4 linked regions of the Homo sapiens genome follow. The protein of the gene in region 4 purifies or fractionates together with the protein of the main gene of each other region. This does not show direct contact. Each region holds a gene or a part of one and is shown on either strand. Other genes may lie near its edges. The genes, in order: CBR1, TRMT44, HEATR6 and PRKAB1.

Evidence for each region.
Region 1: the proteins of PRKAB1 (region 4) and CBR1 purify together in Homo sapiens (co-immunoprecipitation; 2 studies listed by BioGRID and IntAct, with this or other methods). This does not show direct contact.
Region 2: the proteins of PRKAB1 (region 4) and TRMT44 purify together in Homo sapiens (affinity purification with mass spectrometry; 2 studies listed by BioGRID and IntAct, with this or other methods). This does not show direct contact.
Region 3: the proteins of PRKAB1 (region 4) and HEATR6 purify together in Homo sapiens (affinity purification with mass spectrometry; 2 studies listed by BioGRID and IntAct, with this or other methods). This does not show direct contact.

Annotation. Positions count from the first base shown.
Region 1 is NC_000021.9:36,065,210-36,073,043, reverse strand, and holds the start of CBR1 (carbonyl reductase [NADPH] 1), read right to left. Parts: upstream 3,021-7,834; 5' UTR 2,929-3,020; coding exon 2,640-2,928; exon of another isoform or gene 2,559-2,639; intron 2,095-2,558; coding exon 1,987-2,094; intron 1,230-1,986; coding exon of another isoform or gene 1,105-1,229; exon of another isoform or gene 599-1,104; coding exon 162-598; 3' UTR 1-161. UniProt on the Homo sapiens protein: NADPH-dependent reductase with broad substrate specificity. Catalyzes the reduction of a wide variety of carbonyl compounds including quinones, prostaglandins, menadione, plus various xenobiotics.
Region 2 is NC_000004.12:8,443,777-8,450,776, reverse strand, and holds part of TRMT44 (probable tRNA (uracil-O(2)-)-methyltransferase), read right to left. Parts: intron 4,302-7,000; coding exon 4,187-4,301; intron 1,109-4,186; coding exon 889-1,108; intron 1-888. UniProt on the Homo sapiens protein: Probable adenosyl-L-methionine (AdoMet)-dependent tRNA (uracil-O(2)-)-methyltransferase.
Region 3 is NC_000017.11:60,054,919-60,061,962, forward strand, and holds part of HEATR6 (HEAT repeat-containing protein 6), read right to left. Parts: intron 5,179-7,044; coding exon 4,972-5,178; intron 4,604-4,971; coding exon 4,504-4,603; intron 2,486-4,503; coding exon 2,130-2,485; intron 1,320-2,129; coding exon 1,197-1,319; intron 684-1,196; coding exon 597-683; intron 1-596. UniProt on the Homo sapiens protein: Amplification-dependent oncogene.
Region 4 is NC_000012.12:119,678,122-119,682,152, forward strand, and holds the end of PRKAB1 (5'-AMP-activated protein kinase subunit beta-1), read left to right. Parts: intron 1-1,811; coding exon 1,812-1,880; intron 1,881-2,126; coding exon 2,127-2,204; 3' UTR 2,205-3,498; downstream 3,499-4,031. UniProt on the Homo sapiens protein: Non-catalytic subunit of AMP-activated protein kinase (AMPK), an energy sensor protein kinase that plays a key role in regulating cellular energy metabolism.

The sequences.
Region 1 (7,834 bases), on a different chromosome or scaffold from region 4:
GAGTGCGTAGGTTGCTCAATTAGTAGTACATTAGTGAGTGCTAATTGATAAGAGATCATTTTTTTTCTTATATAAGGATATTTATGACATTGTAAATGCCCTTTGGACCAACTCAGGACAAGGTACAAAATGGGGCCCATGGATGGAGCTGTGAGCCCAGCTCACCACTGTTCAACTCTCTTCTCTGAAACAAATTGTCCATGGGGACCCTCAGCATCTGGGGGCAAAAGGGCCAAGTACACAGGGGTCTCTGCACCTTCTTCTGGGCTCTTGGTGGCCTTGGGTCCCGCCATGTCAGTTCTCACCCACCCTGGGCAGCAGGCATTCAGGAGGATCTTGTCCCCTTTCCTCTGCTCACTCAGTTTCCTGGCGTGGATCCTGGACAGAACGGTGACGCCAATCTTCGTCACCCCGTATGCGCTGCTGGGCCAGCCCTCCTTCTGGTGCACTCCCTTCTTTGTATCCTCCACAAACTTGTTCATGAGCCCCACCAGCTCCTCCTCAGTGATGGTCTCACTGCGGAACTTCTGCTGCAGCTCTGGGCTGCAGCTTTTAAGGGCTCTGACGCTCATGATGCTAGATACGTTCACCACTCTCCCTAAGATACACCACAAAGCATTATGTAGAAAGGTGTGCAACAATCCCGTAGAGAGGTGAATGCCAAATTTGCAGGGATTTTGGAGCAGAAAATTTTCATATGAGAGACAGTTACTGGTATGAGTTCTAAGAGGAATACGCATAGAAAGTGTGGTGGTAGTTGCATGAAGAAGTTCATTCCTGCCTTCGAATTTTGGCTGAGTAGAGTCAGGTGAGATTTGGAAGAGCTGCCCTTTGAGGTCCTGGTGAACCAGAGCCTTAGAAGTAGCACAACTTAACAGGACGACAGGACAGGGAAACAGGATAAAAGCTGAGAGTAAGCTGTACATGCAAGTACCCAACTCGAAGCCACACATTTAAATTTTTCTAAAAGTGGCTGCTTAATTGCTGTGTTATTTAATGGGTGGGTTCATCTCCTGTCCCATTACTTAGGGTAACTATCACAGCAGTTTACAACCAAAGACATGTGATAGTCATGTCCAGCACCTTCAGCACGTTGAAGGGGAGTTAAAATGGGCCCAGAGTTAAGCAGCGGCAGATTATGGACATCTCTGTGAACCATGCTAAGGGCTTGGACTTTCCTCCTGAAGGATTTTGGGAGAGGCATGACCATGCAGACAGTACGCAGGATGCTGGGAAAGGAAAAGAGGAAAAGACTCAAGACCAGAGGTGCCTTGTGAGGGTTTGCAATTGTCCAGAGGGACAGGTGAGGGCCTGCTGTAGAGCTGCAATGAGACGGATTCAGGAGGAACTCAGTGGGCACAACTCCTAGGACCTAGTAAATGATTATGAGGGGTGGGGCATGGTGACCTGCAGGATCCTGGTGGGTGGGTGGTGGGGTCTGTGTCCCAAACGACTTAGGGAAAAGGATAGGGATCCTCTGGAAATATCTTAGATTGTGGGGAAAGGCATCAGGAAGAGATGGAAAGGCAGCAAGACAACCATGTGGTTGGGAGCTTAAGGAGTGTTTCAGACAGGTGACAGGTATTAGAAGGGCCTAATGAACTGGTGGTAGTAAAGCCTCCACCAGCCTGAATAAGATCTCTCTGAAAGAGCAGAGAAAGGGTACAGGATGGACTCCCACGCAGAGGGGAATGGAGCAAATAAAGAGCATCTCTCAGGAGACGTTTGAGCTAAGACCTGAAGGATGAGAGTCAGCCAGGTGTGCAAAGACCAGTGCGACAGGGAGGACGAATGGCCATGGGAGTGGGAGAAGTGAGGACAAAGTCCTGAGGCAAAATGGCACATATCAGCTGGCAGGAGAAAAAGCACAGAGGTCAGTGCACGTGCAGCATGGAGAGGAAGCAGGAGCCTGCAGGAGAAATCCCAGGCAAGCAGGGGCCAAATCAAGCCCCAAAGAGAAGGTGCGCTGTTTCCCATCAGACTCACCTTGGGGTTTTATTAGAGGGAGTAATTCTGTGCACACATCTCGGGTACCAAAGAAATTTGTTTTCATCGTCACTTCAGCTTGAATATGAAAGGGTGTGGGATCAGCAACTTTTAGGAGAGAAAGAGAACATAGTTAATACATTGTACCCATGGGGTAAAATTCTATACAATGATACTAAAAAAAAAAAAAAAAAAAAAAAAAAACTTAGTGCCCTCTGCCTAAAGTAAGTCTGTATCTGGTTACAGTATTGTGCCAATGTCAATCTCCTGGTTTGATCATGTTCTAGTATTTTTGTAAGATGGCACCATTGGGGGAAGGAGGATGAAGGGTGCACACACTGGATCTTGGCATAACCATTTTTTCTTTTTGCAATTTGTCGTTTATTTTAAAATCAGTTCAAAATCCATCCAGTTGCCTTAAAGCTCAATTCAGAAAAACTGCAGAAAACCTGAAAAAGATCCCCAAGAGTCCCAGCCAGGGAAACACAAAGTTCCCTTTGGCTGGAAAACTCTCACTTTCTCCAAGGTTTCTGCACTCCCTGCATCTCCTAGCTCCTCCCTCTCCTCCCTAGGGAGGCGTTATGGACCCCGCAGACGCCAGGAGCCCCAGTGCATCGGTTCTTCTTCGGGGAGGCCACGTCCCCTCCCCATACCCTTGAAGGCGATGCCCGCGTTGTTGACCAGCACGTCCAGGCCCCCGTACTCCTTGCGCAGGAAGTCGCGCAGGGCGCGGATGCTCTGCAGATCGTCGATGTCCAGCTGGTGGAAGCGCGGGCTCAGGCCCTCCGCCTGCAGCTGCTGTACGGCCGCCTGGCCCCGCGTCACGTCCCGCGCCGTGAGCACCACGTCCCCCGAGAACAGCCGGCACAGGTCGCGCACGATGGCCAAGCCGATGCCCTTGTTGCCTCCAGTCACCAGCGCTACATGGATGCCGGACGACATGGCTGAACGGGGCGCGCGGAACACCTGCGTGGAGAACAGACCTGGCTCAGGCCCGGGAGCCCCGCAGCGTGTTCCAGAGACTGCTCGAGTCTGGCGGTCGTGGGCGCGCACCCGTGGGTTACACGCCCGGCCGCTGAGCGCGCAGGCGCAGGCCCCGCCCTAGCGGGGCGGGGCTGAACCATCCCTACCCCTCCCCACCGGAACCTCGCCGGGGTGCGGAGCAGGCGGAGAGCCAGCTAGCCTGACTTTGCAGAACCCGCAGGCCGAAGACCGAGGCTGGTCTCTAGCTACTGGCTGTTGGCTGCCCACGTGGCAGTGAAGAACCATTCCTAGTGGCCATGTGCCTAGATCTGAACTCACTGCTTGCCCTTGGTTCTCTGAGGGGTTTTCTTCATATTCTCCCAGCTGTTCAATCATTCCTAGTTGTGTTTGAAGAAATAGTACATTTGCATGGTTTTTTTTTCTTTTTTTCCTGGTGTTCTAAAAAAAAAAATACTGCAGGAACTGCAGTCTTTGGAGCTAGAGTTGCAGAAGAAACTGGAAGGAAATAACAGGGCATCAAGTTTTTGTTGATTTTCCCCCTAAGTATATGAAAACAAAGCTACTGACTTAGCCAGATTTTCCAATAATGGTGGGAAACATTCACTAAATCTTTATAAGGTTACTTCTCTGGGCATTTGCAGGGCCATCAGTTTATCTGTGCATAGGTGTAGGGGGTTTCACAGCCCTATTTTACACGGACAATAACACTCTAGGATGTACCTTTTAATCCCCATCTTAAAATGAAGAAACAGGGATCCATCCTCAGAATTTATAACTTAGTTCAGTGGTGGGAAATTGTTAGAGAAATGCCAGGAGTTTGGTCTAGGTCTGGTGGTTCACAGCACAGAAAGCCAGTCACTGAGACCCCATTATTGTCAGGGAAGAAGGCATTATTTGGGTGCTACAGCCTAGGGGGGAGAGATCAGTCTCAAATCCATCTTCTCAACTGATTAAAATTAGGATATAGCAGGGAAGAAATGTAACTGCATGTGGGAAAATAGCAGGAGTTAGGGAGAGATGAAGAGGAGTGGGTCAACAGGCATCAGGCAATTGTTGCAGGTGAGGGGTCTGGTGTCTGATTTTCCAGATGTGGTGATCCGATAAGTTTCAGTTCCTTGGTGCTATCTGGGAGGACTGATGGCTAGTTCCCTGAGAAAGGAACTCAGATAAGACAAATGTAAATTTCTCAAGTTTTTAGACTGGGAGGGTCAATTTGTTTATTCAAAAGAGACCAGGCCTGGCGCGGTGGCTCACGCCTGTAATCTCAGCACTTTGGGAGGCTGAGGTGGGTGGATCATGAGGTCAGGAGTTCAAGACCAGCCTGGCCAAGATGGTGAAACCCCATCTCTACTAAAAAAAAAAAAAAAAAAAAAAAATACAAAAATTAGCTGGGTGTGGTGGCAGGCGCCTGTAATCCCAGCTACTTGGGAGGCTGAAGCAGAGAATTGCTTGCTTGAACCCCAGAGGCGGAGGTTGCAGCGAGCCGAGATCATGCCACTGCACTCCAGCCTGGGCAACAGAGTGACTCCCTCTCAAAAAAAAAAAAAAGGAAAAAAAAAGAGACCATAAACATCTGTCCTATGGGACAATTGCATGGTTTCAAAGTGAGTGTTCCTCCTTCCTACTTACAAGGGAATTGGGAATAAGGTCAAGTTTCATTTCTGTGCTGTCCCATAGGTTGCCACTATCACAGGTGGCCATTTAAACATAAATTCAAATTAAGCAAAATTTGTAATTCAGTTTTTTAGTTGCACTAGCCACATCTCCAGTGCTCAATATGTGCATGTGTTAGTGGTCACTGTATTGGGCAGTACAGATTTAGGATATTTCCATCCTTGCAGAAAGGTCTGTTGAACACCACTGCTTTAAATAGATTGCAATTACATTGCAATTTCAAGGTAGGTTTCCAATCAGTTGCTTTAAAACAAGTTAATAATCAAGGAAAGACCCTTGCTTTTTTTCAACTGAAATTTTTGTCGAGCTAATTATAGAGTCACATGCAGTTGTAAGAAATAATACAGAGATTCCTTACCCTTTACTCAGTTTCACTCAATAGTAACATATTGCAAAAGTATAGTACAACATCACAGTGAAGATATTGACAACAAAACAGTCCACCAATCATACTCAGATTTCCCCAGTTTGATGTGTACTTTGTGTATGTATTTAGTCCTATATAATTTTATCAAATGTTGGTTTGTGTATCCACCACTATAGTTAAATGAAAATGTTTCTATTAGCACAAAGAGCCCTCCTGTTGCACTTTTATCACCAAACATACCTCTCTGTTACTCCCCAAACCAACTCTAATTCATGGCAACCACTAATCTGTTCACCATTTCTACAAGTTTGTTGTTTCAAAAATGTTACATAGATGGAGTCATACAGTTTGTAGTATTTTGTTTTTGGTTTTTTTTTTTCCACTCAGGATAATTCAGAGCTCTGTTTTGGATTTTCTTTCCTATCCCAGTGTGTGCGTGTTGGGTCTGTCATTGGCTGGGTTCTCTCCACTGCACTAGCTACTGTCTTCTGTAGCTGGTGTGAGTTAGTGTTAGAGTGGATGGATTAAATTTATTAAGAGGGCCAGTCAGCAATAGCACATGGTGTACAGGGAACTTTGGACAGGGTGAGGGTCCTGCTGTTTCAAAAGGCAAATCCTATGAGGACTATGAATCATGAGTTTGAGTCTGATTTATTTTTTTAGGACTGGAACCAACATAAGAATTGACAGGTACATTAGGCAGGATGCTCCGGAAAATATATAAAATATATATTAACAAGAATTTACTGTATGATAAAGGTGGTTTAACAACTAGTGAGGGAAAGAATTATTCCAAAATTAGCACTGGGGAAAGGGCATAATGATTGGAAAGAAAAAAGATCCCTTACAACATACACTAAATAATTTCCGAAGAGAGAGAAACAGTGATTTATAAATGAATCCATAAAACAACTAAAAGAAAACAAAAGTAAAAGTTTTATTTTCAGTAGGGGAAAATGCTTTCTTTTATAAGCATAAAAATAGGGGAAGAATCATAAATGTCTGATGGGTTTGACTATGGGAAACTTTTTGAAAATTTGTTTTTGAAAAGCATAATTTAAAGCCTGTGAATTAAGCTCTACTTGGATGGTTTTGTATTGTTGTCTCTCTTACATCTGGGTCTTGATTCTGGTGGTATGTGTGAAGAGCCTCCAATATGTAGCACCTTGTCTGGATTCTGAACAATTTAAGAAATAAAACAGAAATTTAAAGATGGAGTTTCCAGATCTCTGCTATTACTGCTATTGGCTAAATTGGAAGACATGCCTTAGTTGTGAGAATCAAAGGTCTGAGACTATATTGGATGCTATATAGATAAAGAATTTTATCACATCAATTAACCTGTGGAATGAATTCATATCTTTACTACCCACTGTTTTTTTTTTAATGGAACGCTTCATGAATTTGCATGTCATCCTTGCCCAGGCACCATGCTAAATCTTGTCTGTATCATTCCGGTTTTAGTATATGTGCTGCCCAAACGAGCACTACTACCCACTAGTTTAAAGCAACTAAAGAACATAGTTCCCACAAAAAAGAATGGAATCATTTCCTTTGCAGCAACATGGATGCAGCTGGAGGCTATTGTGCAAACGCAGAAACAGAAAACCAAATAACGCATGTTCTCCCTTATAAGTGGGAGCTAAACATTTGAGTACACAGGGACACAAAAGATGGTAACAATAACACCGGGGATTCCAAAAGGGGGAGGGAGGGGGTAAGGGTTGAAAAACGAACTATTGGGTACTATGTTTTCTACTTGGGAGCATTAGATGCCCAAACCTCAGCATCAGGCAATACACTGATGTAACAAACCTGCACATGTACCCCCGAATCTAAAAACAAAAACAAAAACAAAAAAGCCCAAAACACAGTTCCATGGTATATATTAAAAGAAAAGATGTTGGAAAATAATATTGTTAAATTATGAACTGTGAGGTTCTCCAGGTCGTTCCTTTGATTAGTTACCCTCACGGATCTGCTTGACACTGGCTGTGTTCCTCTTGCATTTTATGCTTGTTTAGGATATTCAATAAGCCTTTCTACAGCGGTAGACCATGGACTTTGAGACCTGGAATCAATCTGTGGCTTAGGTGCTTAGTAGTTATTTAACTCAAGCAATTTACTGAATTCTGTGAAAGATAAAGCCAGACACTAAGGTGGTAAGGACAGATTTTAGTCAATAATGAACTCCTGTAATAGGAAAGAGGGTCCAGTGGAAACAAACTTTCATTTGTACAGAGATGACTGTGCCTTTTAAAGGGAGAGTGAAGGATCAGGAAGTGGGAGGAGTTAGGGAAATGACAAATTGCCAAGGGTTGCTCAGTGGAAATGTTGGTTAGGCCAGCTGTGTCTGTTAGCTGGCAATTAGCAAAGTTGGGATTCTATTCTCCCACTATAAAGACTGAAAGACAGAGGCCGTATCATTTCTGATGATTACATTTCAGAGGAATGGCTTTCAGGTCCTTGAGAAAGACATTCTTTCTTTTTTTTTTTTTTTTGACACGGAGTTTCTCTCTTATCTCTCAGGCTGGAGTACAGTGGTGCGATCTCGGCTCACTGCAATCTCTGCCTCCCAGTTTCAAGAGATTCTCCTGCCTCAGCCTCTCGAGTAGCTGGGACTACAAGCGTGTGCTACCACGCACAGCTAACTTTTTGTATTTTTAGTCGACAAAGGGTTTCGCCATGTTGGCCAGGCTGGTCTCGAACTCCTGACCTCAGGTGATCCGCCTGCCTTCACCTCCCAAAGTGCTGGGATTACAGGCGTGAGCCACCACACCTGGCCAAGAAACACTCCTGGGTGGGAGATACATCTCAAAGGGA
Region 2 (7,000 bases), on a different chromosome or scaffold from region 4:
TGTGGTTACTCCTAGGACGGGGAGGAAGATGGGAACTAGGAAGAATAGTAAGTAGCTTTGACTCTACCAGCAATGCCTTCTGCCTTAAGCTGGGCATAAACACACAGATGTATTGGGGGAACCCGCCCCCAATTCGGGGTCCCTGACTTCCCGCAACACAGATGTTTCTTGTTATACTGTTTTTACATCTTAGATAGAAAGTTTAAGCACATGTTATTATGAAATGTATCTCCTTTTGGGAACTGCTCTTTTGTATTTTAACTTTTCACATATTTTCTTAAAATATATTTAAGTTTATACAAAGAATTATGGTAATTTAGCCATTTTTTTTTTCAAGGTTCCATTACTTTTCAATTAAATATTTCCCTTTAGGTCTCTTGAAAACAAATAATATACAAGTAAAGATCAATCCTTTTCCATTATATATCTGTCTATGTTTTTGTTGTGTGCACCCCTAAGTATGTCAAAGTACAGCCTGCAACAGGAAAAACAATTTTACCTGGAAGAGTTTGATTATTTTACCTCATGTAAATTAAGGGTGAGCTGGACACGGTGGCTCACACCTGTAATCTTAGCACTTTGGGAGGCCAAGACCAGTCTGGGCAACATGGTGAAACCTCATCTCTAATAAAAATACAAAAAATTAGCCAGGCGTGGTGGCATGTTCCTGTAGTCCCAGCTAGTCCAGAGGCTGAGGCAGGAGAATCTCTTGAACCCGGGAGGCAGAGGTTGCAGTGAGCCAAGATCACACCACTTCACTCTGGCCCTTTTTTTTGGGGGGGTGACAGAACAAGACTGTCGCAAAAAAAAAAAAAAAAAAAAAAAAAGAAAAGAAAAGAAAAGAAAATCATGAAGGGGGAAAAATCAGATATTCTCCACCAGAATTACCTTAACCATTTCCTTATACTTCTCTTTAAGTTCCTGGTAAGCCTTGCTATACTTCATAATGGAGATGAGGGAAAGGGTGCTTTTAAAGTCACTCTTCTTGTTCTCTACAGACCACTTGGCCAACTTGGCCAGCAACTCTTCTCCAAGCCACGTGGGTTTGGGATACACGATTCCATCTGAATGCCATCTTTCTGGACAGAAAATTAAAACAGATATGAACCTTTAAAAATAAGAGAAATATGAATAAGCACAGATATGTTCAATTCTTATTTTAAAATTATCTATTTATTTACCTAATGAAGAAAACAGAAGCTAAGACATCTATATTACCAAAAACATAAAACGAACTAGAACTAGTTACAGAACTTTCATCTAATAGAGAAAAACATGTAAAAAGCACAGAGAATCCCTCTTTTCTTGCAAACTTTGTTAAGGATATATTTACACACTGCGAAGCCCCTGAGGCGGCTGAACAAATAAAGGCCTCTCTCCTGCTGCTTCATGCACAAGGAGCCAGAGTCTAAGCGTCCAAGGATTTTCCTAACATTTCTATTCTTTACCATTTTCACAGGTGCAACTCAAATGAGTATACTGGCTCACCGAATAGCTACTTGCCAGAAGGCGAAGTGCTCAGCCACAGAGATAAAGGCTGCTGTGCATTTTGCCGGCTTATTTTGTCTTTCACATGTCTTCTGCCATCAGAAGGTTCATGACAGTGGGGGGCTTCTGTCTGTCTTGCTCACTGCTCCGCCCCCAGGTCCCAGCAGTGCTGACACATAGCAGGCACTGTTCATGGATGCATTCAATAAATGAGGAAAAGCTCACAATCCTTGGGAGGACTGGCGGGACAGATACAAACCCAGATAACAATACACTGTCCAAGGGCTGCGTTTGGGGCAGCACAGGGAAGGGGAGGGCATTAAGTTTGCTGGGCAGATGAGAGAAAGCTACGATAAAAGTGACATTCAACGGACATTCCTAAGAACAAGCAGATCCCAGCCACTGGGTGAGCGGGGCAGAGCCGGAGGGCCTCACAAGTGTGCTGAGGGCGCGGCAGCAGCATGGCCCCACTGGAGGGGACAATGGCAAGTGGTCCGTCTGGTGAGAGCTGTGGTTTCCAGGTTTTCTGCCACCACGGTGCATTAGAGGGACACAAGTCACTTCCAGAAGATTCTCCAGAGAGTCAACCCCAAAGTGGGTCTGAACCTTTCCCCTGGCCCAGCTCCCTGCTCGGGACTGTGAGGTCTGTCCTGCTCAGTCCAGAAGCGTTCCTGCTGGGCCTGACACTAACTTTGGTGGCCCCTGCGCGCTGCAGAGATTCTGCCCAAGGGGCGTTCCTCGCTCTTCCCTGGGCCTCATGCTCTTCCCCAGGGTCCCCCAGAGGTCCATACGGCCTCCTCCTTCATCCGCCTCTCTTCCATGTCCCTTCTCAGAGGCCTTCCCACATACCTCGGCCACACTCTGCCGTTTCTATTGAGGGGACACAGTCCTGCTTGGCTGAGTTTTCCTCCCTACACCACCTAGTATGGGAGCAGATATTCTCCACTGCCCCAGGAGACTCACTTCCCGCTGCGTGCCAGCCCTAACACATGCTGGGCACACAACAAATGTTGCCGAAAATGAATCCAGCTGCGAAGAAGCACGCACATCGACAGTGGAGCCCCTCATTTGTGTTCAACTCAGAAGGCAGTACATCTGGCCCCTGAAGTGTGACCTGTGCCCAGAGACTGCAAGGAATAGCGGCCCGGTGAGGCTATGACTAGAAATGCCACCCTGGGAAGGTGGGGGCAGCAGCCACGTCCTCAGTAGCTCGTTAAAGAGCAGTGAACGTCACTCCGATGCCGACTAGAAATGCCACCCTGGGAAGATGGGAGCAGCAGCCACGTCCTCAGTAGCTTGTCAAAGAGCAATGAAAGTCACTCCAACGCAGCAGGCACATGCCAAGCACCTCCTGCAACCCCGCCCTGCACCAGGTGCCCACTGCCCCCAAGACAGGCACCACTTTCTGGCTAATGGGCACACAGTTCAGCATCGCCGAGCACAGAGGTGCCTGGCACAGGTAAGCATGGCTTCTCCTAGTGTCTGCTCTCACTCCTCACTCTCCAACAAGGGCATGCTAGCAGGAAGGGACCTCAGGGCAGGATCCCCTGACAACTCGGGGCAACCTCTGGATGGTTCTCAAAGGGCTTCATGCTACAGGGCCTGAGCACCCCTTTCAAGCACGAAGGCTGCAACAGATCCATGTGAGGCCCAGCCCTGCCACCTCCTCAGAGGCTCAGGAATGATTAAACCCATTTCAAGGTGAGTAGACAGAGGGCCAGGAGGTAGAGCACATCCCCAAGACCACACTGCTAGTGGGAAGCCCATGCTCTTCTCGCCACATCCCTCTGCTTTCTAGGAAGCCCCGGGCAAACTCATTCCAGTTACTCAGACATTATCCCCAAGACTGTTTCGGAAAGTACAGCTTGGATGTGGCACTCAGGAAAATATCAGCTGACAAGTCATGAATGAATTCACCCCTCCTCTGACTTTTTCGTTTTAAAAATACCAAACGGTATGAATTAAATTTTATACTTTCTATACAGGCCCAAATACCATATGGAATTAAGGGTGCTTATTAAACCGCTACTTTATAATAAGTATCACTGAATACTTACTACAGAAGGAACCATCACCTATTCCCCATTACTAAGTCATAAAAAATAACAAAATAGGCTGGGCTTGGTGGCTCATGCCTGAAATCTCAGCACTTTGGGAGGCCAAGGCAGGTGGATCACCTGAGGTCAGGAGTTTGATACCAGCCTGGCCAACATGGCGAAACCCCGTCTCTACTGAAAATACAAAAATTAGCCGGGTGTGGTGGTGGGTGCCTGTACTGTGCAGACTGAGGCACGAGAATCACTTAAATGCAGGAGGTAGAGGTTGCAGTGAAATGCGATGGCACCAATGCACTCCAGCCTGGGCAACAGTGTAAGACTGTCTCAATAATAATAATAACAATAACAATAAAGAAATTTGAGTTTGACTTCAGAGCTAATGCTAAGGGCTGCTGATCATCACAGCCACAGGGAAGGTAGAGATCAGAAACCCCAGCCAGGCTGTGACCACCCAGACTCGAGGCCAGGCACCAACAGGAAGAGCAACATGGCCTGGGCACATAAGCTAGCAACTGCATTCCTACAAACCATAACCACCTCAGAGACAGGACCTTAAGCCCTGGCAACCCAGAATCCTTTGGCTACCTAAAGAAATCCTCAATGGAAACCATAAAACTAGGAGTCCACTGTCCAGCTCTTACCATTCTTCTTTGCTATGACTGAGCTGAATTTGATACACATTGCTCATCTTAACCTTTAGGTTCCCCTCATCATCTTCTTCCAAAGGCAAAAACGTTATGGTTCCATTGAGGACATCTGGAAAGAAAAAGAGAAGAAGGACAAATTACAACTGCCTAGCTACCGTCTCATCAGAAGCAGTATTAAAAATAGGGATGAGTCAAGCACGATGCTTTCAATCCCCCAGCACTCTATTCACAATGGCACTCCAGGAGAGGAACTTTTGCCTTTCATTCACTGCTACAGCCCACAGCCTAGAATGTGCCAGGCATACAGCAGCCATTCTCTGCAAGTATCTGTTGAGAGATGCATGAGCCAGGACCTGAGGGAAGAGCCAGCCAATGTGGACTCTATTGGAACTTGAGAGCTACAATCAGAGAAAACAGGGGACCTCTGCCCTAACTGAGTGTCTGCCACAGCCTGACCATGATCTTCGAGTGTGAGCAAGGCACAGAACACTGCTCAGCCATCAGAGGCCAGTTCAGGAAAGCGGATATCAGTCCAGGCCTTCCTAACAACCGCTTTATGTTGTGTGGAGCCCTTGCTGCATGTACGGACTTCACAGTCACCTTCCCATTAAAATATAAGCAGAGTGGCATATTCCTAAGCTAAATTTACAGCATTCTGTCAGTTTGTGTGGATACTTAAGGTTTGGTTGTATAAAGTTCTATCTCTAAAATCAATCGTGTTTACCTTTGATATTAAAAAAAAATTGCAAACTCTGTTAAAGAGGAATATACACTTCACAGGCCAAATATGCACAACTGTGGTTCACCTTCCACAGCAGATGAAAGAACAAGACCTGCCAAAAGGAAGCAGAGGCTGAAGGGGCTAAGTGGATTCAGATGGAAAGCAAGCAGTGTGGGGCCGAGAAAACTCTAACAATCAGAGTCTACTGCTATGGAATACAGGGTGGCCAGGGAAGTCCTCCCTAGTTAGGTGACATTTGAGCAGAGAGCCGAAGGAGGTCAGGGAGTGTGCCATGGGGCACCTGGAAGAAGAGTGTTTCAGACACAGGAGCAGCAATTGCAAAGGCCCTAGGGCAGGCGTGTGCTCAGGTGCATGGGGAATGGAGGTGAGTGGCGTGGACAAGGTGACAAGTGGTAGAAGGTGAAATCAAAGGGTAACAGGGCCCACCCAGGTCACATAGGGCCTTGCAGTTCATAGAAGTACAGCTTTTACTGTGAGTGAGACCAGAGAGAAGAGGACTGACACAATGCATCATTCTTTCCATGAATTATCTCATTTAAAAACTGCAACAGGACCAGGCGTGATGGCCCATGCCTGTTGTCCCAGCACTTTGGAAGGCCAAGGTGCGAGGCTCACTTGAAACCAGGAGTTAGAGACCAGACTAAGAAACATAGTAAGACCCTATTTATACAAAAAATAAATAAAGTAAAATAAAGCTCACAACTTTATCATCCAGTATTATTTTCACCATCCTCTGGATCAGGGTTTCTTAGCCTCAGTGTCACTGGCATGTGTGGCTGGATAACTCCTTATTGTTGGGAGTTGTCCCGTGCACTGTAGCATGTTTATAAGAAGCCCTGGCCCCTACCCACTAGATGCCAGCAGCATCCTCTCCCTCCCTGCCCAGTGTGGCAACCCCAAATCTGCTGTCACTGTTGTCGCTACACAATGATAAATTTCGATTTTTAAAATTTTTAAATTTTTCATTTTTGTGGGTACATAGCAGGTATATATATTTACAGGGTACATGAAATGTTTTGATCCAGGCATGCAATGTGAACTAATCACATCATGGAGAATGGGGCATCCATCCCCTCAAACATTTATCCTTTGTGTTACAAACAATCCAATTACACTCTTTTCGTTATTTAAAAATGTACAATAGTGGCCGGGAGAGGTGGCTCACGCCCGTAACCCCGGCACTTTGGGAGGCCAAGGCAGGCGGATCACGTGAGGTCAGGAGTAGGAGACCAGTCTGGCCAACATGGTGAAACCCCATCTCTACGAAAAATACAAAAATTAGCTGGGCGTCGTGGCACATGCCTGTAATCCCAGCTGCTTGGGAGGCTAAGTTAGGAGAATCGCTCGAACCCAGGAGGCGGAGGTTGCAGTGAGCTGAAATCACACCACTGCACTCTAGCCTGGGCCACAGAGCGAGACTACTCTCAAAAAAAAAAAAAAAGTACAATTAAGTTATTATTCATTATAATCCCCCTGTTAGACTATCATATACTAGGTGTTATTCATATTCTATTTTTTTTGTACACTTTAACCATCCCACCTCTCCCCCAACCCTCCACTCCCCTTCCCACCCTCTGGTAACCATCCTTCCACTCTCTATGTCCACGAGTTCCATTGTTTTGATTTTTAAACCCCATAAATAAGTGAGAACATGTGATGTTTGAATGACAAACTTCTGAGGATCAAAACTGCCCCGACTGAAACCTCTGTTCTAGATGAGAAAACCAGGCGTTCAACAGATTAAGTAATCTGTCTCAAATCCACATAGCCTCAAACTGAATTCTGTTCTTTAACTAAAGAAGTCAAGTTCTTAACCACTATGTCATCCTGTCACCTGCTACTAACAGTTAAGATTTCTTAGTCACATTCCTTTTTTTTTTTTTTAGACTGAGTCCCCGTCTGCTGCCCAGGCTGGAATGCAGTGGCACAATCTTGGTTCACTGCAACCTCCACTCACCGGGTTCACGTCATTCTTCTGCCTCAGTCTCCTGAGTAGCTGGGATTACAGGCACCTGCCACTACGCCTGGCTAATTTTTTGTATTTTTAGTAGAGACGGGGTTTCACC
Region 3 (7,044 bases), on a different chromosome or scaffold from region 4:
CTCAAACCTCATGCTGAAATGTGACCTCTAACACTGGAGGTGGGCCTAATAGGAAGTGTTTGGGTCATGGGGGTGGATCCCTCTTGAATGGCTTGGTGCTGTCCTTGTGGTAATGAGTGAACTCTCACTCTATGAGCTCATACGAGAGCTGGTTGTTTAAAAGAGCCTGGCATCTCCCTCTTGCTTACTCTCTTGCCATATGACATGCCTGCTCCCCCTTTGCCTTCCACCAGGATTTAAAGCTTCCTGGGGCTTCCTCAGAGGTAGATGCTGGCACCATGCTTTTTGTACAGCCTGCAGAACTGTGAGCCAGATAAACCTCTTTTGCATAAAAAACTAGGTTTTATGCAAAAGAAATATTAGTTTTACTATTGCTGGTTATATGTTATACATAAGCCTACCACAAACTAAACTGCAAATAAACTGAAATGTAAAATAAAACCAATTTATACTAGTTTCATGTTTTCCTGGATTATAAAACATAATTTTTGACACTGGAAGAAACCATATCATCTACTCCATTTATCACTGAGCTTCAAAATAAAACTGCAACTGAAGCATTAATAAAAGAAAACTATGAATTGACATTTATTTACCAAGAAGACTGGTGCTCTCTGATCAGGTGCTGCAGTGGAGTCTGGTTTATACTGCTGTATTAAGCCTGTGCCCAGTTCTTCCAGAAGCTGCCAAGAAAAAGAATTACCGAAGTGGAGCATCAGAACTAATGAATGACTTCACTTGAGTAACACCTTCACTCTAGTAACACCTTCACTCTAGTAACACCTCCACTCGAGTAACACCTTCACTCGAGTGACACCTTCACTCTAGTAACACCTTCACTTTAGTAACACCTTCACTTGAGTTTGGAGATCGCCTCAAATCAAGGGGAAACATAATTTGCAACTAATTTTCTTTCTTTTTTCAGTCACTGTTAACAGAGGCATTCTTTCAAGGACTGAAATCAACAGCTATATCTTATTAATTTGTTACTGAGTCAATGCGTGGGGTTTATATGTAAGAGCCGAAAACAGAAGAATGCATGTCCTCCTTACCTGAAATCTCTTTAAGAAATCTCAGAATTGAAGGACATGTGGCAGAAGAATATAAAGTGAAGAAAAGGAAGGATATAAAGTGAAGAAAAGGAAGGATATAAAGTGAAGAGAAGGAAAAAGCATTGTGGTTTTGATGAAAATTACCTTTGCTCCATGAAGCTGAATGGATGGATCTGCTTCCCCCATGCACTTGCAAATCACCTCTCCAAGCTCCATCAAGTAGGCTTGAGTCATTGAAAAGTAGCCCCTTGCCAGAAGAGTCAATACCTGCAAAGAGAGCATGGAATTAACCCTCTAAGACCTGAGTGCAAGGCTGCAATATCCAGAAAAGTGTTACAATATTTCAGAAATCGCTTACATTTAACAGGGGCTGAAATCTGTTGAATGAAATTAAGAACCATAATCTTTATTTTGTGACTAACATCAATAAACTGTATCATAGTTTTATGGTGCTTTAGTATATGATTGCTTTTCATTAACAGAATCTCATTTAAGTCTTGGAACTATTCTTTAAAGTAGGTATTAACTGAATTTTACAACTAAAGAACCTAAGCCTGACAAGATGAAAGGACATGCTTCATGCTGCCCAGTTAATCAGCAGCAGACCTCAGGACCAGGCCTAGTCTCAGATCATATTTGTATAGAAAAAGTAAACTCTTTTATCTAGGATTGTTTTCTTCCTTTGAAGGAACAATTATTTTGTTACTCTAAGCAGGTACAAGACCAAGGAAAAGCTTATAGAGAATTAAACATTTAAGTTGCAAAAATCAAAAATTAACTGTACAATTTCACTCAGAATTATTCTACAATCTATTACATCCACTTGTCATATAATACCTGAAGGGACTAAAATAATTTGCAATCAAAGAACAAAAAGGAATGAATCTGCTATTTTACAACCAAAGAACACCTCCCCAAAACAAAACAACAACAAAACAATACACCACCCATACCTAAAATACAATTCCCACGAACACAATTGACATATGGCTTGGTTTTACCTGCTCGCTCCTCACAGTCACTCTGAAGGAGGAATGGTTACTTCCATTTCAGAGATGAGGAAATGAAATCTCCTACCTGTAAGGCCTCCAGTCGCATGGGGGATGGTTCGTAGGTGCTTCCTGCTGCAGAGCCAGCATCGCTACCTGAACAGGAATCCTCCTTGGGCAGTACGACAATGGAAATGCAGAGTCGAATGAGCCAGCAGGGCTCTGAAGACCCCTTAGGTGAGCTAACTGACGTTTCTTCCAGAGAGGGTCCTGCAGGGGCTTTCTTCCACCAATCAGGAGGGCTGAGGTGAGGGGTTGCTGAATTGCTATTACCGAGTCCAGAAGAACATGGCTGTTGCAGAAGTAGTTGGACTTCAGGTAAAGGTGCGTGGGTGGACACTATAGCTCCCAAGAGTGTGAGACTTGACACACGAACATTAACATCTGTCAAAGGAAGCAGTAAGAACTTATCATCATGGCAACAACTACTGTAAAGATGGTAGTTATCCCAGCAGGCAATTAAAAATTAGTAGTTCCTTGTGTAACCTGAATCTAATCAAACTTCTAGACCTCATTTCCAGTTTGGAAATACATGGGACAGGAGAGTAAGTTAACACCATAAAGAAACAATCTGACAAATTGAGAATGTGATTTATTTTGTTATCTTTGGTGACAGAGCTTAGAGTTCACATTCTATAAGACAATTGGGTTGGATTCTTTCCTAAGTCAGTTTGATATAAAAAAGATGGGTGGGGGGACTCTACATTTAAAAAGACTACAGTGACATAATAACTAAATGCAATGCATGTACCTTGAATGAACCCCGGATTTTAACAAGAAATATTTTTAAAAAGCTAAAAGGTCTGTGTCTAGACTCATTTTTTTTTTTGCATGTGATGTCCAGCTGTTCCAGCACCAATTGTTGAAAAGTATCTGCTCCTTTGTTGTAGATCAGTTGACTATATTTATGTGGGTCTATTTCTGGGCTCTCTATTCTGTTCCATTGATCTGTTTGTCTCTTCCTTGGCCAGTATCACACTGTCTTAATTACTGTAGTTTTATAGTAGATTTTGAGGTCAGGGAATGTCAGTCCTTCAGTTTTGTTCTTCTCTATCAATATTGTGTTGGCTATTCCAGGTCTTTTGCATATCCATATATATTTCAGAATCAGTTCATTGATATCTGCAAAATAACTTGCTGGAATTTTGATTGAGACTGCACTGAATCTATAGATCAAGTTGGGAAGAAGTAACATCTTCACAATATTGAGCCTTCCTATCCAGGAATATGGAATCTCTGTCCATTCATTTAGTTCTTTATTTGATCAGAGTTTCACAGTTTTCTTCATATAGATCTTGTACATATTTTGTTAGGCTCATACCTAAGAATTTCAGGGTTTGAACATTTTAATGAAAAAAAGTTACTTGAGGATAAAGTCAGATACTTGAAAGGAAACTTTGAGGCATGGTGCACTCTCCTCAGCTGAAGATGCAGATAATGAAAAGTTGGTACAGTGGAATGAGCAGGGGTTGTTCTCATCTTATTTCTGCCATGAATGTGATGGGAAACCTTAGGGTAAGACTTATCTTTCTGGGTCCCTTTTTTACATATTAGTGTAAGTAGTGAACTGGACTTAGTTACATCTCATTATCTCATTTGAGCCTCATAAAAATCTTATGATGTAGTTATAATTCTTGCTGTTAGGAAGAAATTAGGGTTCAGAGAGGGTCATGGCCATGAGATGGCAAAAATGGGAGTGGGATCCAGACCCTTGGATTGACTTCAGGTCCCATGCTCTTCCCACTATGTCACAGAAAACATCCACTATTCCTTCCTTGTTACAATTCTGCCTGAAAAACTGAACTCATCAGAATGTGGTCCGATCTGAAAGCTTGCAAACAAAAGAAAGGCAAATCTACAAAAGGCAAGTGTTTATAGCACAAATACATTATGTGTAGGAGGAAATAATAAGACTGCACTTAGTAAAGATTTGAAGTTCTGGGGTTTTATCTGAACTTCATAGGAAATAACAATAAAGAAGTTAAATTTTGTATTCCAGTTTTTCTTTCCAAAAAGTAGATAATATCTATCTGTCCGTCTGTCTGTCTATCTAACCATCCATCCATCCTCTACCTATGTGTAAGGGATATAAACAATCATACTCCTCAGGGGGGCTGCTTGCACCTGGCTCAATCTTAATTCTAAAGGGATACTCTGGTCACTGCCCTGAGCATTAAACAGGCAAACTTTACAATTAATCCTCTAGCTCACTTCCACTGGGACTTGAGGGGTCAATTCTTGCAACAGCTTATACCCCTGAAAAGTTGAGAAGAATAAGCAGAGATCTCTTAAGAGTTGTAAAAATGCTTTGAATATATACATATATCTATATCTGTATATTTTTACTAATAGTCTGCATCTGACTGATACAAAGAAGCCATCAGTTTTAAGCCACTACAAACCTTTGTGGCGAATATAAGGCTTTATCTGGTTCCAGACTTTGGTCAGCAGGCTGAGTTTTAGACGATCATAAGGTGCATTTGATACTAAATTTGCAAGGCACTGTAAAACACAAAAAGTAGCTCATCAAAAGGCTTGATTAAACCACAGCATAGAACAAATTTTGCAGCATTTAATTAAAAAAGAAAAGTTTTCACACAACTAAAAATTAGCCCCCCTTTTTTTTAATAACACTTGTATTCTCATTGGTACAACTAAAGATAAAGAAGTATTTTTAGCAAATCATTTATTGGGACATACAGAGATTATAGATAAGATCAGACGAGTAGGTACAGACTTCCAAATAGTGTATTTTTAATAAAACTATTACTTAGTTATATTCTTAAGTCAAGTTACTTTTGAGCTATGTAAAACAGTATACAAAATTAAAACAGAGAAGCCTGCTCTGGAACCCACAGTTGGTACATTACCTTAATTATCTGAGTAACGGTCTGTGAGGATGACTCCGCCACCAAAGCTAACAAAAGACATCTGTGCAACTCTCTAATGCTGCAAGCGATCATTACGGAGAAGGGGGTAAAAGCCCTTCTGTGGTCACTGGTATCTTCAGCAACAGAAAGAAACTGCTTTGAGCCTTCCAAGATGGCAGATAAAACTTGCAGAGCACAGGCACGTGTCTGAAATTTCGGGATGATTCACATTGATTAGTTGAAAATTAGGAGTCAGATTCCCTTCTTCCTATACATATTTAATGTTCAAAGTATTTACAATCATTTTAATTGGAAGAATAAAGGCAATGGGATTATCTGTTAGTTCCTAAAAACTAGGCCACTTGCGTCCCACACCTAAAAAAAAATCTTTATTTTATTTTTATTTTAGAGACACAGTCTCGCTCTGTCACCTAGGCTGCAGTGCAGTGGCGCAATCATAACTCACTGCAGCCTCAAACTCCTGGGCTCAAGCAATCCTCCCACGTCAGCCTCCCAAGTAGCTAGGACTACATGTGTGCCACCACACCTGGCTAAAAAAAAATCTAGAAACCCATTGCTGTTAGGTGTTTTACAGTAAGAAATAAATCTAAGCTACACCATAGCACAAAAATCTGAAATCCTAAGCATGAGAATAAGAATTAGAGGCCTGGTTTATTCAAGCAGAATGCCAACTGAAAAGTTAGAACTAAACAGCCCATGGGGTAGAAAAAACACATGTGCCTAGAGTCTGTTTCCTATTAAAGTTCCTGAGAACATTATGCCTCATATTCCACTCTGAAGTATGTGTGTTCAATGTTAACTTAAATAGGACTTTAGGAACTTTGTGTACATACTGCTTGGCAGACATCATTAGTGATCCAACTTTCAGAAACAGTCTTAGGTACAGGAAATAACACTGCCTGCAGTGACAGTATTTGACAATTCAAAAAAGGAATACCATTAAGTACAATCTTATGAATGGAAAGGACAAAAAGAACATCTTTGTCATGGACTGCTGTATTTGTTAGGAAAGGTGTCACTGGCACCAAGATTTTCTTTATAAGGTTGAAAGATTACTTTCAATTGGTACTCAGATGATTTTGTAGTATTAGAAAGGAAAAGAAAGCCCAACTTTACAAAAATGGGATATAGGTAATAAGCATAGGACTATTAATACGGAATAATATTGTACTCTCTTAGGCCAGCTCATCCAAAAATGATAATTAACATTTTCAGTCAAAAAATTTAAAAGCAGGGAACCAACATTACAATTCTAGAATCTAACCTAAATAGTTACTCAATATGAAGCATATCTGAGTTTGGAGCAAAAAAGGTTTTCCCAAAAGCCTTCAATTATATTATCTCCAAACAACCAGGTAATAAATCACCAGGCAGGCCTTTTATAGAGTGGAGTCGTAGAAATCTAGACTTATTGCTCTGAAGAGAAATTTGAAGTACAGTAGCATCAGACTTCAGAATTAAGCATAATCCCCTAAGGTGGGAAATTGACAATGTATTAGGAAACCGTGTGTATATGTGTGAAAAAACGAGAGAGCGAGAGCATGAACACAAGTCAGCTGATCCAAAAAGGACTTAGATCAGGGGCTGGCAAACTTTTCTGTAAAGAGCCAGCAGTAAACATTTTATATTTTAGACTTTGTGGGCCAGTTTCTGTCACAACCACCCAACTCTGTGATTGTAGCATAGACATGTAAAGGAATAAACGTGGTTGCGTTCCAAAAAGACTTGATTTACGGACAATGCAATCTGAATTCCATATAATTTTCACATATCACGAGATATTATTGTTTTATTTTAAAACCATTTAAAAGTGTAAAAACCATTCTTAGCTAACAGGCTGTACAAAAACAGGTGGTGGGCCAGATTTGCCCTACGGGCCACAGCTGGCCAATCCCTACTAGAGGCTCGTCCGAACTCAACAAGATAGATCTTATGCTAAACCTTCATTTCTTTAGAAGACAATTAAAAATCACAATTCCAACAGCTCACAAACTGAATGAAATTAAAAATCGAATGGAAAGAAATGAACTAATGTTCCAAAAGTCAAAAATT
Region 4 (4,031 bases):
GCTGCTGGGAATAGACAAGCTGAGAGTGGCCCAGGGGGCTGGGAATATGAGAATGTCAGGACCCCTCTGTCCAAGGTAGCACTAAGCTCTAATGTAAACTGTGGTTACAGTTGTCACTACTAAAGGGTTAACATTTATTTTGCCCCAAACTAATCTTAAGTGCTTTTCGTGTATTCTTATTCAAGCCTCACAACAACCATGTGAAGTAGGTGCAATTATTACCCCCATTTTAGGGATGGGGAAACTGAGGCACAGAGCAGTAGGGAGAACACTTAAAATCTACTGTCTTAGAGATTTTCAAGAATACATTGTTACTAATAGTCACCGTGTTGTACAGTGGATCTCTTGAACGTATTCCTCCTGTCTAACTGAAATGTTGTATTCTTTGACCAGCATCTCCCTACCCCCACCACTCCTAGCCGCTGGCAACCACCACTCTACTCTCTACTTCTGTGAGTTCGACTTTCTTGGATTCCACATAAGTGACATCACATGGGATTTGTCTTTCTGTGCCTGGCTCATTTCACTTAATGTCCTCCAGGTTTATCCATGCTGTCACAGATGACAAGATTCCTTTTGTAAGGCTCAGCAGCACTGCATTGTGTATCAGTACCTCATTTCTTTATCCATTCATCCATTGTGGACACCTACGTTGATTCCACGTCTTGGCTATTATGAATAGAGCTGCAGTGAACGTGGGAGTACAGATATCTCGACATGCTGATTTCATTTCCTTGGAGTATCTACCCTGTAGTGGGATTGCTAGACCATGTGGTAATTTTAGTTATAACTTTTTAGGAACCTTCATGCCATTTTCCATAATGGTTGTACTAATTTACATGCCCATCAGCAGTGCACTAAAAGTAGCTTTTAAGTGTTCTCACCACAAAAACATGGTAAGCATGTTCTGCGTGTGTTGATGAGCTTGATTTAGCCATTCCACAATGTGTCCATATTTCAAAACAACATATTGTACATGGTAAATATACATAATTTTATCTGTCAATCTTTGAAATTGATTAATTTTTTAAAAACCCCTCTTAGGCTCACACAGCAACTGGCTGAGCCAGCAGTCACATCAGGCTTGGCTGGTGCCAGATCCTTGGTAGTTGGTGCTCTCAGCAGCCACCCTGAATGGCCTCCCAGCGGGAGCTTGCTGAGTATTTGTTGACACAATGATTGGCCCAGCCTCTGGGATCCTAAGCCTACAGCAGTTGTTCTACACTTTTTTCCATTTGAATTGCATTTATAACAGTTGGGGGTATACAATGAAAAAATAAATCCCGATTTCTGGCTTCTCTTAAAACATAGGAAGGTGCGGCGGGCAGCTCTGAGTGCCAGCCCGGTGGCAGATTTTCCAGAGTAGTGGTGTCTTGCCCAGGTATCCGTTTCATTCTTCAGGTTCATTGAGTCTTACAGATACAAGTTTTGAATCCATTGCTCAGGAGCGTTTAGTGCAGATGGTCTCTTCCTGTGTTCTCTGAAAGTGCTGTTAATAGCTGCTTTCTTCCTGCCCCACCCTCCATAAGAGGACAGGGCCGTGGCCCACACTTGAAAGAGGCCGGGGTAAATGCCTGGCCAGAGACACACACCGATGCCTCCAGCAGGCATGCAGGGAGCTCCCTTCAGGTCAGAAGGCGTGACCTTCATCTCACCTGTCGTCTTGGACAAGCCCTTGCGCTGCCTGATTTGGGAAGAGAGGTCGGCCTGAGCGCTGCCTCCTGTCCTTTGATATCTGGCACTGGGAAGTAAAGGGGAGAATCTTGGTTTCCAAATCCCAAATGCTCACCGCTGCCTTTGTTCCCTCACAGTGTGATCCAGCTTTGCTTCCTGAGCCCAATCACGTCATGCTGAACCACCTATACGCGCTGTCTATCAAGGTAATGACATGTCTGTCCCCATGAGAGCTGTGTTGCCCAGTGTGTGCTCTGAGGACCCCCAGCAGTGGAATGACCTGGCGGGACTGACTTAAAGGGCAGCTTCCAGGGTCTGGCACAGGCCATCAGGCTCAGGTTCTGAAGCTGGCCCGGGAATTTGTGGTTTTATGAAGCCCTTAATGATTCTCATGTCCTCTGAGGCTTGAGCCCCTTAGTCCAGCCTTTGATCATTTCCACCTTGTTCCTTAGGATGGAGTGATGGTGCTCAGCGCAACCCACCGGTACAAGAAGAAGTACGTCACCACCTTGTTATACAAGCCCATATGAAGAGCTGGGGGCGGATGGTGGCCCAGGAGACAGCACACCACCAGGCTCCACACGTGCATGCTTTCCCCAAGAGGGAATGGACTGTACATTGCTCATTTCACACTCTTCAGAAGACATTTCATACCTGCCCTGGTCCTGCTTGAAGGTTTGTCCAGGCAGAGCAGCTCCTGCAGCGCCTCGGTCTGTGACAGTCCTCCTAGCACCCCCATGGCTTTGAGCCTCGGGGACTCATCAAGTCCAAGAAAAGAGGGAGGGGTGGCAGAGGATCTGCAGCCCTGGCCCCGCGGTGCATGAGGCTGGGTGCAGTTCTAAACCTACATTCTCGATTTTTCTTAAGCCAAAAATGAATGCTAACTCCTTTGCCAGTAAAATTCTGGGAAACAGGGACTGAGGCCACACATCATTTCCAGTCATCTGTGTGTTTTTAAGGCCAGCCACTTGTCCCTGTTGAGGCCTGGCTATGGAACTAAATACAGTGTTGGTCTTGCCTGTCCTTCAAAATCAACAACAGATTGTCTCTCGGCTCCAGGGAGGTGTCATTTCTATAGAAATTAGAAGCTTTCTGATTTCTAGATGAGGTTTTACAATTGTTTCTTACAGTCATGTGCACTAAGTACTCTTTTTGTAAGCAGAGGTGGCTGGCTCTGCAGCCTTAAGGCCATTTTTTAAGTCACCACGTCTAGAAGTCACATGAACTCTGCTCAGCAATAATCTGTTCTCAGAACAGACTTTTCAACCTGCTGCCGGATTTCTCCATTCAGCTGGATGATCCTCAGGACTGACCAGTTAGCTGGCAGGTTGTCCAGCTTTTTATTCCAGTCATAATAGGTGACAGTGTTAACCGTGAAAACTTGAGAGGCACTCTGCCCTCTTCCCTATAAAATCACACAGCGTGATTTTACAAGGTCCCGTGGCACCTTGCTCAGGACCTCTGCCCCTAGTTAGCAAGACTGCAGCAGTTGCTGTTGCTTATTCTGAAAGGAATGTAGAACTTGACAGCAGCCTTCTGAGTCTGGGTCAGGAAGATGTCCTTTGGACCAAAGCAGACTTCTTTATACGCAGCTCAGTTTCCCGGGAGTCGCCACAGATGTACCCACTAGCCCAGGTTGCTGTGAGTCAGCGGAAGCTCCCGTTATGCCCTTTGCTCCTGGTGGGAGAGGGAGGAGTGAGCTCCCTGGGTTCCAGTATTTACTTGGTATACCTGAGTTTGGGGGTACCCTTTTTTGTGACTTTTCAAAACAGTGAATTACTGTCACCTTGATGGACAAGTTTCAATAAAACTTTGTAAAAATAATTGGACATGTGCCTGGAGGAGCTCTGATTTTATTCAGTCCCTTGGAGAAGAGACTGGAACTCTTCGAGAGTTGCGTTTCAGTACCGTTCTTGTGGCTCTGAGCGGACAGGGCTACTCCAGCTGCCCAGGCCTGAGAACCAGTCCTGTGACTCACACCCATTCACACAGTTTGGAACCTTAAGGGACCCCTAAAACTGAGCCCCTCTGAACAGCTCAAGTCACAAGGGGAAGCTGAAGAGGGGTAACAGCAGAGGCTCCTGGCTTCGGCCAGTTGTTGGTGTCCCCAGGCCAGAGGGTTTGTTTCCTTTTGCTCCTAAACAAGCCCGGTGGGACAGCCTGGGATCGTGACCCTGGCGTGTGAGAGAGCAGGACGTTGTGGAGTCAGAGCTGTTTTCATCCACTAAAAGAGGCCGTGTCCCTCCTCCAAAAAGGTGGAAGGTTATGGGTGTTCCTTTAAGCCTTCTCAGGTATCAGGAAACATTTTAAATTTAGCAGAAAAGCATGCTAATGAGCTCTACCCACTGGTGCAGAAA